Linked DNA regions of Homo sapiens. The protein of the gene in region 3 purifies or fractionates together with the protein of the main gene of each other region. This does not show direct contact. Each region holds a gene or a part of one and is shown on either strand. Other genes may lie near its edges.

The links.
Region 1: the proteins of ALDH5A1 (region 3) and SEC31B fractionate together in Homo sapiens (co-fractionation; one large-scale study listed by BioGRID). This does not show direct contact.
Region 2: the proteins of ALDH5A1 (region 3) and SLC34A2 fractionate together in Homo sapiens (co-fractionation; one large-scale study listed by BioGRID). This does not show direct contact.

The regions. Positions count from the first base shown.
Region 1 is NC_000010.11:100,495,722-100,499,374, reverse strand, and holds part of SEC31B (protein transport protein Sec31B), read left to right. Parts: intron 1-116; coding exon 117-215; intron 216-570; coding exon 571-670; intron 671-1,167; coding exon 1,168-1,346; intron 1,347-1,581; coding exon 1,582-1,708; intron 1,709-2,094; coding exon 2,095-2,240; intron 2,241-2,943; coding exon 2,944-3,117; intron 3,118-3,653.
Region 2 is NC_000004.12:25,672,827-25,676,178, reverse strand, and holds part of SLC34A2 (sodium-dependent phosphate transport protein 2B), read right to left. Parts: intron 3,093-3,352; coding exon 2,925-3,092; intron 1,884-2,924; coding exon 1,767-1,883; intron 1,675-1,766; coding exon 1,550-1,674; intron 45-1,549; coding exon 1-44. UniProt on the Homo sapiens protein: Involved in actively transporting phosphate into cells via Na(+) cotransport.
Region 3 is NC_000006.12:24,501,316-24,504,968, forward strand, and holds part of ALDH5A1 (succinate-semialdehyde dehydrogenase, mitochondrial isoform 2 precursor), read left to right. Parts: intron 1-1,207; coding exon 1,208-1,291; intron 1,292-1,947; coding exon 1,948-2,118; intron 2,119-3,553; coding exon 3,554-3,653. UniProt on the Homo sapiens protein: Catalyzes one step in the degradation of the inhibitory neurotransmitter gamma-aminobutyric acid (GABA).

The DNA.
Region 1 (3,653 bases), on a different chromosome or scaffold from region 3:
AAATAGATCAGGGATCTTAGAGAGTACAGTTGGTGGGGTATGGAGATAGGAAAAGAGGATAATGCTTATTTGATCTTACGCTTGAAAGAGCGGTTTTCAGAGGTCTCTCCCTGCAGGTGGCCACATGGTTGAAGAGTGACGTGGGGCTAGGTGAGAGTCCTCAGCCCAAGGGAAATGACCTCAACAGTGACAGACAACAGGCCTTCTGCAGCCAGGTGTGGTAGGAGTCCAGTCAGCCTGACCTATGGTAACACAGGAAACCTGCCTTTTGGGCATCTTTCCCTTCCTGGCCCTTTTCTTTGCTGTCTGTAAGTGTTTAGCGTCTGTAGAAGTCTTCAGACTCCTCACTCTCTTAGAACCAGAGTGAGACACAGAGTCCCTAAGCTTTTGGGCTGGGAGTGGAGAGCTGTGTCTTAACCATGAACTATGGCCCTCCCCAAACCTTACCTGGCTATTTTTTTAGTTTTACCCATTAACGGCCAAATAGTAGAGCTCTCAGGGCTACTAAGCCAGCTCTCTGTCTGTCTTGGGTTCATCCCTAAGTAGTCACCTCTGTCCTTCCTCATACAGGCCTCCAAACACACCACAAAGGAAGCCTCTGCTTCCTCAGCCTTCTTTGATGAGCTGGTCCCTCAGAACATGACTCCTTGGGAGATCCCCATCACAAAAGGTACCCTGACCCTGAGGGAGAGGGAGAGTCTCTGCTTAGGACTAGGTGGGCACGGAGGTTTTGGACTTGAGACATTCCCTTCTTGTCCCCTGCCTCGTGCCTTCCTCCCACCGTCTCAAATGCTGAGTGAGTCGCTTACCAGTTAGAGCTCTCTCTGGTTGTAGATTTTCATGGATACGTCCTTCCTATGGAAGGCCTTCTACCAACAGATTTTCTTCTATCCTTCTTGCTGAAAGGACTGTGGCCCTGCCCACTGTGATCAAGCACACCTCACACTGTGCTACTGCCACATCAGTTCCCTCCCTTGTCTTGGGCCCTGTCTTTAGACCTGGGCACCAAAATACATTTTATTGCCAAGGAGTGAAACTTGAGGATTTAGTTTGGAGCCAAGCACACTGAGTGATATAGAGATATAGAGGGTGTGCTGTGGGCCCTGCAGGGGGCAGGAAGTTGGGGTTTGAGAGCAACTAATGCACAGGGGATGCTTCTGCCTGCAGATATTGATGGACTCCTAAGCCAGGCTCTCCTGCTTGGGGAACTGGGTCCGGCCGTGGAGCTGTGTCTGAAGGAGGAGCGCTTTGCTGATGCCATTATCCTGGCCCAGGCTGGGGGTACAGATCTGCTGAAGCAAACACAGGAGCGCTACTTGGCCAAGAAGAAAACCAAAATCTCCTCGGTAACTGCCCATCATGCAGGAGAAGAAGGGAGGGGATTACTTGGACCTTGTGAGGTGGATACCCACACCTTGGGACCCATGTTTGAGTATCTGCCTGCCTCTCTCTTTCTACTCTAACCACCCCCACCTCATCCCTTGCCCCTACTCAGTGCTCTAACAGGAGGCCTGTGCAGGAATCCTGCTGCCTATGCTGGATGGATGGCTGATGGTCTCTTTCCCTCTCTGCCCATTACAGCTTCTAGCCTGTGTTGTGCAAAAGAATTGGAAGGATGTGGTGTGTACCTGTAGCCTGAAGAACTGGAGAGAGGCACTGGCTTTGCTACTGACATACTCAGGCACAGAGAAATTTCCCGAGCTCTGTGGTAAGTGTGGTCCCAGGCTTCAGGATGAAATGGTGTGACTCCAGCATGGAGTCAAAGGATGCATGCAGGAGGGAGGTGGAGGAGCAGACTGAGCTGTGGGAGGCGAGGCAATGTTGTCAGGGCTAGAATCTGGCTCAGCCAGGAGGCAGGGACCACAGTGCATGCCCCTATTTTCAGAGGGGATCCTTTGTTGTCCTGTTTTACCTTGTCTTGTCACACCATGATGTGAGAACTTTCCCCTTCTCTGTACAGCAAGGTGAGTCTCAGTGTTGTCTTAAACTGCAGCTACTTGTCCCAGGCTCATGGTCCTCTCCCTGTTTCCAAACAGGAGAAGGAGAGGCACACAGGGCAGCTGTGCCATTAATGAAATTACCCTCTCTCTGCAGACATGCTGGGAACTCGCATGGAACAGGAGGGCAGCAGGGCACTAACCTCCGAAGCCAGACTCTGTTATGTGTGCTCAGGGAGTGTGGAGCGGCTGGTGGAGTGCTGGGCAAAATGCCACCAGGCTTTGTCCCCCATGGCTCTGCAGGTACCCCTTCTCTGCAGGGTACTGGCCACTCCACACCAGGCCCTTAGGAGGCTAGTGGTGGAGATGTGCAGAGCTAGCAGAGGCGAATCTTCTGGGACAGGCTGGAACCACGGTGTTAGGGAGGAGCGAAAGGTCCTGAATGTCTGGGATCTTCTCCTCTTCCCTCAGAGAAGACTAAGCAGCAGCTGCTTCAGTGTTAGTCTTCATAATTTTTTTCCTATTTCAGGTTTGGTTTTACAGATGTATTCAGTACTTGAGTAATTGTGGCTTGGCCCTTCTATTAGCTACTGTGGAAAGTTCTGTGGATCTAAACTTCCAGGTGTTCTGTGGGTGACCACAGAAAGTGGGGGTCACAGACTCATGGAGAGACAAAAGTCGCACATGAAACAATTAGTCTGACAGAGTCTGTGGTTGGTGATGTATAAGCAGAAAGGGTAAAAAAGCAAAAGGAAGAGGTAGAGATGTACAAAAATCTAAGACCCAGATGGGTCCAGTTAAATCCAATCCTAACAGCTTGGGAGGTGAGGCCAGGTGGCCCTTCTCTGTCACAGTTCTTACGTGTCATCATCTGCTGCCTTCACCTAGGTATGGTCAGGTGCCCTCATCTGTACCCATAGTGGGAGATCCCTGAATGAGCTGCGTGGACTTAGAGAGCAGGATATGCCTCATTGAAGGCTTACCACCCTCATCCTTGCCCTTACAGGACCTGATGGAGAAGGTGATGGTTCTTAACAGGAGCTTGGAGCAACTGCGGGGTCCTCATGGGGTGAGCCCAGGCCCTGCCACAACCTACAGGGTCACTCAGTATGCCAACCTCCTGGCAGCCCAGGGCAGCCTGGCCACTGCCATGAGCTTTCTACCCAGGGACTGTGCTCAGGTAAGTGGGGCCATGTGGAGAGAGCAAACCATTTCATTCAGTCATCTAACATTGATTGAGCACTTCCATATTCCAGGCACTATGCTAATGCTGAAGCTCCTAGGATAGATAAGATGGAATCCCTTAAGCACCTCACAATCTACTGGGGGAAGATCAGATGTTGATGACTTATAGTGCCATAACAGAAGCTTATACTGAGCACTGTGGGAGTCCAGGGAAGGGACTGATTTTTGCCTGGAGAAGTCAAGGAAGGCTTCTCAATGGTTAAAACAGCTGAGCTGGACCTTCAAAGAGAAGTAGCTTACCAGCAGATATAGAGCATTCTAAGCAGAAAGAATAGCAAGGAGGGAGGCATGCAAGTGTTTGGCAGGGATTCAGGAACCTTGAGTCATCTCTAAGGGGGCTAGAGTATAGAGCGGGGGTGTCCAAGGGTCAGAATACAGTCGTGGGTGCTTAGTTTCTGTTTCTGGTTGGGCCAGTAAAGCCCCTTCCTCATCCCGGTTTTCCACTTATCACTAGAGACAAACCAAAAACCA
Region 2 (3,352 bases), on a different chromosome or scaffold from region 3:
AGCAAGATGCCGGAGATGTTGAAGAAAAAGTGGCACAGGGCGATCTGCAACACAAGAGGTTGGACAGGTGAGGGGCCTGTTGCCCAATGCGGGTGGCAGTAGGGAGGAGGAGGGGGAGGTAAGCTAGCAGGCATCACAGGCAGCACAGTCTCGGGCCTTCCAGGCCTTCTTTGTCCTTATGGCTCAGCCCAGAGGGTACCTGGATTCCATGAGGACCTACTATGTGTCTGGGAGGGCCAGGAGCACTCAACTGTGCATTATCTCAATTCTCAAAAAACACTCTACAGAGTGGCAACCATTATTTCTTGACATGAGAAAATGGAGGCTCCTCAAGTCCCACAGGTGGGAGATGGAAGAGGTGGAAATTCACATCCTGGGAGCCTGGCTCCAGAGGCCAGGCGCTTGGTCACTTTCCCAAGGTGCCAATTTCCATGCCCAGGCTGTGGACCAGCACTGTCCAATACACTAGCCGCATGTCCACACTGAGATGTGCTTTAAGTATGAAATACACACCAGATTTCAAAGACTCTCAATTTTTGACAGATGACATATTAAAGTGATAATGGTTTAGATCAAATACATTATTGAAGAATGAATCAGCCTGTTTCTACTTTTAAAAATGTATCTACTAAAAAATTTTAGGATGACATATGCGGTTAATTTATATTAGATGCCTGAATTTCTATTTCTGTTGCACAGATGGCTTTGCCTCATCAGATCTTTATAATAATCCTAATGAGATAGGGGTTATGTCCTCCATCTTTCAGATGAGGGAATTGACGCTCAGGTTAGATCACTTGCCAAAGGTCACTTAGTATGTAAATGGTGAGATAAGAATTCAAATCCCCGGCTGGGTGCAGTGGCTCACGCCTGTAATCCCAGCACTTTGGGAGGCCAAGGCAAGCACATCATGAGGTCCAGAGTTCAAGACCAGCCTGGCCAACATAGGGAAACCCCGTCTCTACTAAAAATACAAAAAATCAGCCAGGTGTGGTGGCAGGTGCCTGTAATCCCAGCTGCTCGGGAGGCTGAGGCAGGAAAATCACTTGAACCTGGGAGGTGGAGGTTGCAGTGAGTGGAGATTGTATCACTGCACTCCAGCCTGGGCTACAGTGCGAGACTCTGTCTCAAAAAAATAAAATAAAAATAAATAAATAAATTCAAATCCCAAAGGTCTTGCACAAAGTAACATAGATGGTCCATGCCAAGGAGTTCTCCTAATTGTAAAGTTCCCCATAGGAGGCAGTGAGGAGATGGGAGGTGGTGTCTGTGCTTCCTAAGTACCTTTTCCACATCTATATCAAGGGGCCACCCCACTTTTGCTGAAACAACCACCAGTTATGAGGGTCTTACTGCTTCTCTCAGAACTGATAGTTTTGATTGTTCTCATATCAAGGTCCTGAAAACTTTACCCGTGGCTTCCCCTCCACATATTAGTTCCATATTTTGGATAGTACAGAGAAAAGCCTGGCTCTTGTTAGAGACCAGTTTGCAAGACCATGGGTGGTCCCACTCCCAGGGCCCCTGTCCCCGTGCCCCAAGTCCTGACCTGGAGTGAACTCCTCAATGCATTGCCAGGGCTGGCTAAGGCGGCCAGGATGGCGGTGGTGGTGGTGCCGATGTTGGAGCCCAGCGTGAGTGGATAAGCCCTCTCAATGGTTATCACGCCGATTCCTGGGGGAAACACAAAACACAAACATATCAGCCCCATGGGATGACAGGAAATGGCAGTGGTGGCCAGAGGGAGAAGCCAGGGTGTAACTCACCAATCAGGGGGGTCAAGGCCGACGTGAACACAGAGCTGCTCTGTACGATGAAGGTCATGCCTGCCCCGACGAGGATGGCCAGGTAGCCAGTCAACCATGCAAAGGGAAAGGGGAAATCTGGAAGACAGAAGGAAGAGATGTCATGGCCTCTCCGGGGAAGGTATGGCCTGGTGGCCTGGGGTAGGGGCTGGGCTTAGGGGTGAGGTTGTACATCATCCCATATATGGTCTCAGATTACAGAGTAGAGTTTTAGAATCCAGTTTCATTCCCCATTGTCTTTTGCTCCGCATATTCAGATGGAAAAACCAAGGATACAGGTAAGTGTTATGAAAACAAAAACACAGATTCCCTGGAGGTCAGGTTAGAAAGAGTGAACCCACCCAAGTAACCACTCTCCTTCCAGAAAGTGCTGAGAGCATGCTTCCTCGCCTGCCCTGGTCTCCTGTCAGCACCCACATTTGACCTTCAACCTTCATTTCTGCCTTAAAGAGCATCAAGAAACTGTAGCAGCTTGGAACATGCCTGCCAACTGAGTCCTCCACCCAACTAGCACCGGATCAGGCCCTGCATTTCCCAGAAGCACCCAGAGTTGCTCTGTTCCCCAAGACAATCTGGGGTGGGGGGCGAATTTTCTTGGCTATATTTCACTGAGCTTTCATGAAGTGATGATGTCATTGGCTTAGCGAGCTCTCATTGGCCAGGACACCCTACTTGGCAGGAAATCCTCTTAGCCAGCAGTCTCATTGGCCACCTCTAGATGCTGATGTATTTATGCATCACATTTCCTTTACAAGAGTGAAGGGAGGTGGGGGCGAGGGCAGACACCTGGGGTCCTTTTTCTAAGGGGTCTTGACAGAGCCAGTAAAGCTCTGAGCATACAGGAAACCCGCTAAGAAGGAAGGCCTGACTCACAGCTCTCTAGATATGAACTCCTGCTCAGGACCTTGCCAAGATGCAATGGAAACTTGGGCCTGCTCCCTAGACCCCACCCAGGATGCCAAGAACATTTCCAGGTGAATGACATCCTCACTTCTGGTGCTGATCCAATCTGAGAGAGAAACTCCATGCAGAGGCCATTGCTAGATGGGAATCTAAAGGACCCCCACACCCCATGCAGTGACTACATGTGAGGCCTACAAGTGAGGGCAGTGTACCTACCAGTGTTGATGGTCTTCTTGATGACAGTGGCGACCTGCCCCTTGAGCACAGAGCCCAGGATCTTGACAATCATGATCAGGCAACCACAGAGGACCAGCAGGGAGAGTATGAGCAAGATGGTGCCCACAGCAAGATCCGGGAGGTGGAAATTCACAAAGATATGCTGGCCTGAAAGACCACAAAGAATCTTGTCAGGAGGGCATGGAGCCACCACGGCTACAGATTGTTATTTATTCCCCCAGATCCTGTCTTTCCTACAAACAGATTCCTGGTTGTTAGTTTAACAGATGGCAGCCCCAAATCAAGACAGCCCTTCTCAGCCTCCTTCGCAGCAAGGGGCACCACTGAAACTATGTCATAATCAGTGGGATCGCATGAGGCTGGAAGATGAAGTGATGGCTTTAAAAATCACACAACTGTTCAGGGGT
Region 3 (3,653 bases):
TTGCCAATTCTGCATGTACTAGTCCTCTAGAAATAGGTTAAACTGAATCAACTTGATGGAAGGAACTCTCCACAGGGCTTGTTTTCCAAAGAAAAGTATAGTTTGGAGAAGCAAAGTTACAAGCCTACCTAAGCATATCATAAAGCTGTTCAGAAATAACTCAGAGCCAGTCTCGTGGATGGAAATGTAGTGCCTGAGTCACATTCTGCTTAAAGTTGTAACAGACACAGAGGAGTTAAAAAAATAGCTGAGCGTGATGATGTGTGCCTGTGGTCCCAGCTACTCAGTAGTAGGCTGAGCTGGGGGGATCACTTGAACCAAGGAAGCAGAGGTTGCAGTGAGGTATGATCACACCACTGCACTTCAGCCTGGGTGACAGAACAAAACCCTGTCTCTTTTTTAAAATTTTTTTAAATTTTTGATTTTTTTTATTTGTGTGCTTTTCATTGTCCAAACCCAGACCCTGTCTCAAAAACAAACAATCAAAAAACACAGAAGTTCAATGTATGTTTCCCCAAGCATCTTACTCAGGGTTGTCCAGAAAAATAGAACCAATGTTTTATATATATATATATATATATGTGTGTGTGTGTGTGTGGGTGTATATATATATGTGTGTGTGTGTATATATATATGTGTATGTGTGTATATATATAATCATAGATATGTAGGAATATAGGAAGAGACTTCTTATAAAGGACTGGCTCATGTGACTGTGGATGCTAAGAAGTCCCACCCTCTGCTGTCTGCAAGCTGGAGACCTAAGAAAGCTGATATGTCCAGTCTGAGTTCCAGACTGGGTCCAAAGTCCTGAGTACCAGGAATGACAATGTCTGGTGTCTGACAACAGGAGGAAATGGATGTCCTAGCTCATGCAGAGAGTGAATTTGCTCTTCCTCTGCCACTTTGTTCTTTTCAGGTTCTCAGCAGATTGGATGATACCCACCTGAATTTTTGAAGGCAAATCTTCTTTATTCAGTCTACTGATTCAAATGCTAATCTCTTCCGAAAACACTCACGGACATACCCAGAAATGATGTTTTACCAGCTATCTGGGTCTCCCAGTCAAATTTACACATAAAATTAACCATTACAACCAAGGAGAATGAGACCATACAGCTAATATTTTAGGATATTGAATTTTATTTAGCATTCTGTCTTACACTTGGCATTTTATTACTTTTCTGCCTTGTTATTTCTTTTGCAGGAGAGGAGTTCATTACTTCGGAAGTGGTACAATTTAATGATACAAAATAAGGATGACCTTGCCAGAATAATCACAGCTGAAAGTGTAAGTTCAGGGTTCTGGCTTGGTGCACTGAGAAATTCTCCAGGAATTTTTACACTAAACTTGGGAAAGCCGCTGACTTCCCTTCACTGCTGGCTGTAGCTGAAGAATATGTGATTCCTTCTCTACTGATCAAATACCAAATCATTATTGTGCCAGGGTACTTAGATTTGCTAAAATAATATTTGTATGTTCTAGTTTATTCTTTAATAGTATCCAAAAATAGATTTTGTTTGCAACTATATGAATAACTGCTGTTTCACCATTCTGATTTTTTTCCATGTTACTGTTTTGGTTGTTTTTTTTTTTAAACTTGTTTTTGTACATTTTTTAATGTACCAATACTTCTTCCATAGATATAATAAATTATTTCATATCGTGGTTACAATACTTAGAAGATATTGAAAGGAGGAAAAAATTAGATGTTTCCTAATTTGTAAACATATTGAGAATGCAATGACTTGTGGTTTAGGGTGATACATTCATCATTGTAATTCTGCTTTTTAAAACTCACACCAAAGTCAGAAATTTTCCCCACTCTATGGGTATCGTTATAGGAGACTTTTCTACTCTTGTTGCATCTTGAAGAATTTAGGAACACAGAGCCATGCTTTTATTATTAGAAGGTAATACGTGGGTTCTTTTCTGATTTAATTTAGGGAAAGCCACTGAAGGAGGCACATGGAGAAATTCTCTATTCCGCCTTTTTCCTAGAGTGGTTCTCTGAGGAAGCCCGCCGTGTTTACGGAGACATTATCCACACCCCGGCAAAGGACAGGCGGGCCCTGGTCCTCAAGCAGCCCATAGGCGTGGCTGCAGTCATCACCCCGGTAGGTGACAGGATCAGCAAGATCCTAGGGTGGGAGATTGGATAGGGAGTTGGGAAACAATTCATTCTTCCTCGTGAGCAGGTGTGCTCATCCTGTTAGTTTTGTCACCTGTTCCTGGTTTCCTGATGCTTTTGCTGGATGTGGAAGTGTGTTTCCTAGTCCTCTGTGATGATGTTAGGTGTGGTGGCAGTGAGTGGAATGATGCATTTCTAATGCCTGCAAAAGTGGGATGAGCCGCAGGAGGACCCAGGGGCTCTTCTGACTTGGCATGGAGGCTTCTTCCTGGCATTGCCTAGCACCTCTGAAAAGATCTTCCAGTATTTATCATTTTTAAAAAGACTTAAGATATGATACATTTTTAAACTTGCCATAGTTTGGAAAAAAGTGTTATGCTTAATTGATGGTTATCATCAATAACAAAGCATTTGTGGACCCACTAGCAGGCACTGGGCCAGGTTCTAGAGGTAAAAAGGCTAAGAAATAAGGTATCACATCTGCCTGGATGGGGCTGCAGTATATTTGTGGAACGCCCAGCTTTCCTTCTGGGTCCTGCCTTCTACTAGGTCCCATATTAACCTCTCTCCTGTATCTGTCAGCTGGTCTCGAGACGTCTGTGTTTTTCCTGCTCAGCATAGTTACAGACAGAATCCCCCTGATTGCCTAGACTGGCTAGGTTTGACTTGAAGGTCACTATTTACTAAATGTGCAACCTTGGCCAAATTACTTAACTGCACTGTCTCCGTTTTCTTGAACTTGCAAATGAGGTTAATATCAACCTCATTGGGTTGTGATAAGGATTTAATTAATTTTAATTTTGAAGTACTTAGAAAAATACCTGATACAGAGTAAGTACTATATAATAGAGTTTTTCAAAATAAAATAAAATACTGTTATTATAGGTATATGTATAGGCATTTATAAATATGTATGTGGAAGGAATAATAAATCATCTGCCATTTTCAAAACCATTGCTAATACTTACTCCCATGGGCCTCAGGCCAAATCCAGCCCACTGCCTATGTTTGTAAATAAAGTTTTATTGGGACACAGCCACACCCATTCATACACCTACTATCTGTGGCTGTTTTCACAATACAGCTGCAGAGTTGAGTAATTGCCATAGAAACCATACATTCTACAAAGCCTAAAAAATTTACGATCTGGCCCTTCACAGAAAAAGTTGGCTGACCCCTGGTCTAACTAATTTTTTACTGTGTTAAATTCTAAAAATATTTCCTGTCTTCAAGAGCCTTTATCTCAGAGTCCCTCAAGTTGGCGGGGGGGTCAGGTGTTCTGAGAGCTCACCTGTGCAGCCAAACGGGTTTGTCAATCAGTTGTGCAATGAAATTTGTTCACTGACTTCCCAACATGCCTTCCTTTGCACTAAGGAGGTGGTCCTTCCTCTCACATACTTCCTCTGCTCTTCTAACCCCAGTGGAATTTCCCCAGTGCCATGATCACCCGGAAGGTGGGGGCCGCCCTGGCAGCCGGCTGTACTGTCGTGGTGAAGCCTGCCGAAGACACGCCCTTCTCCG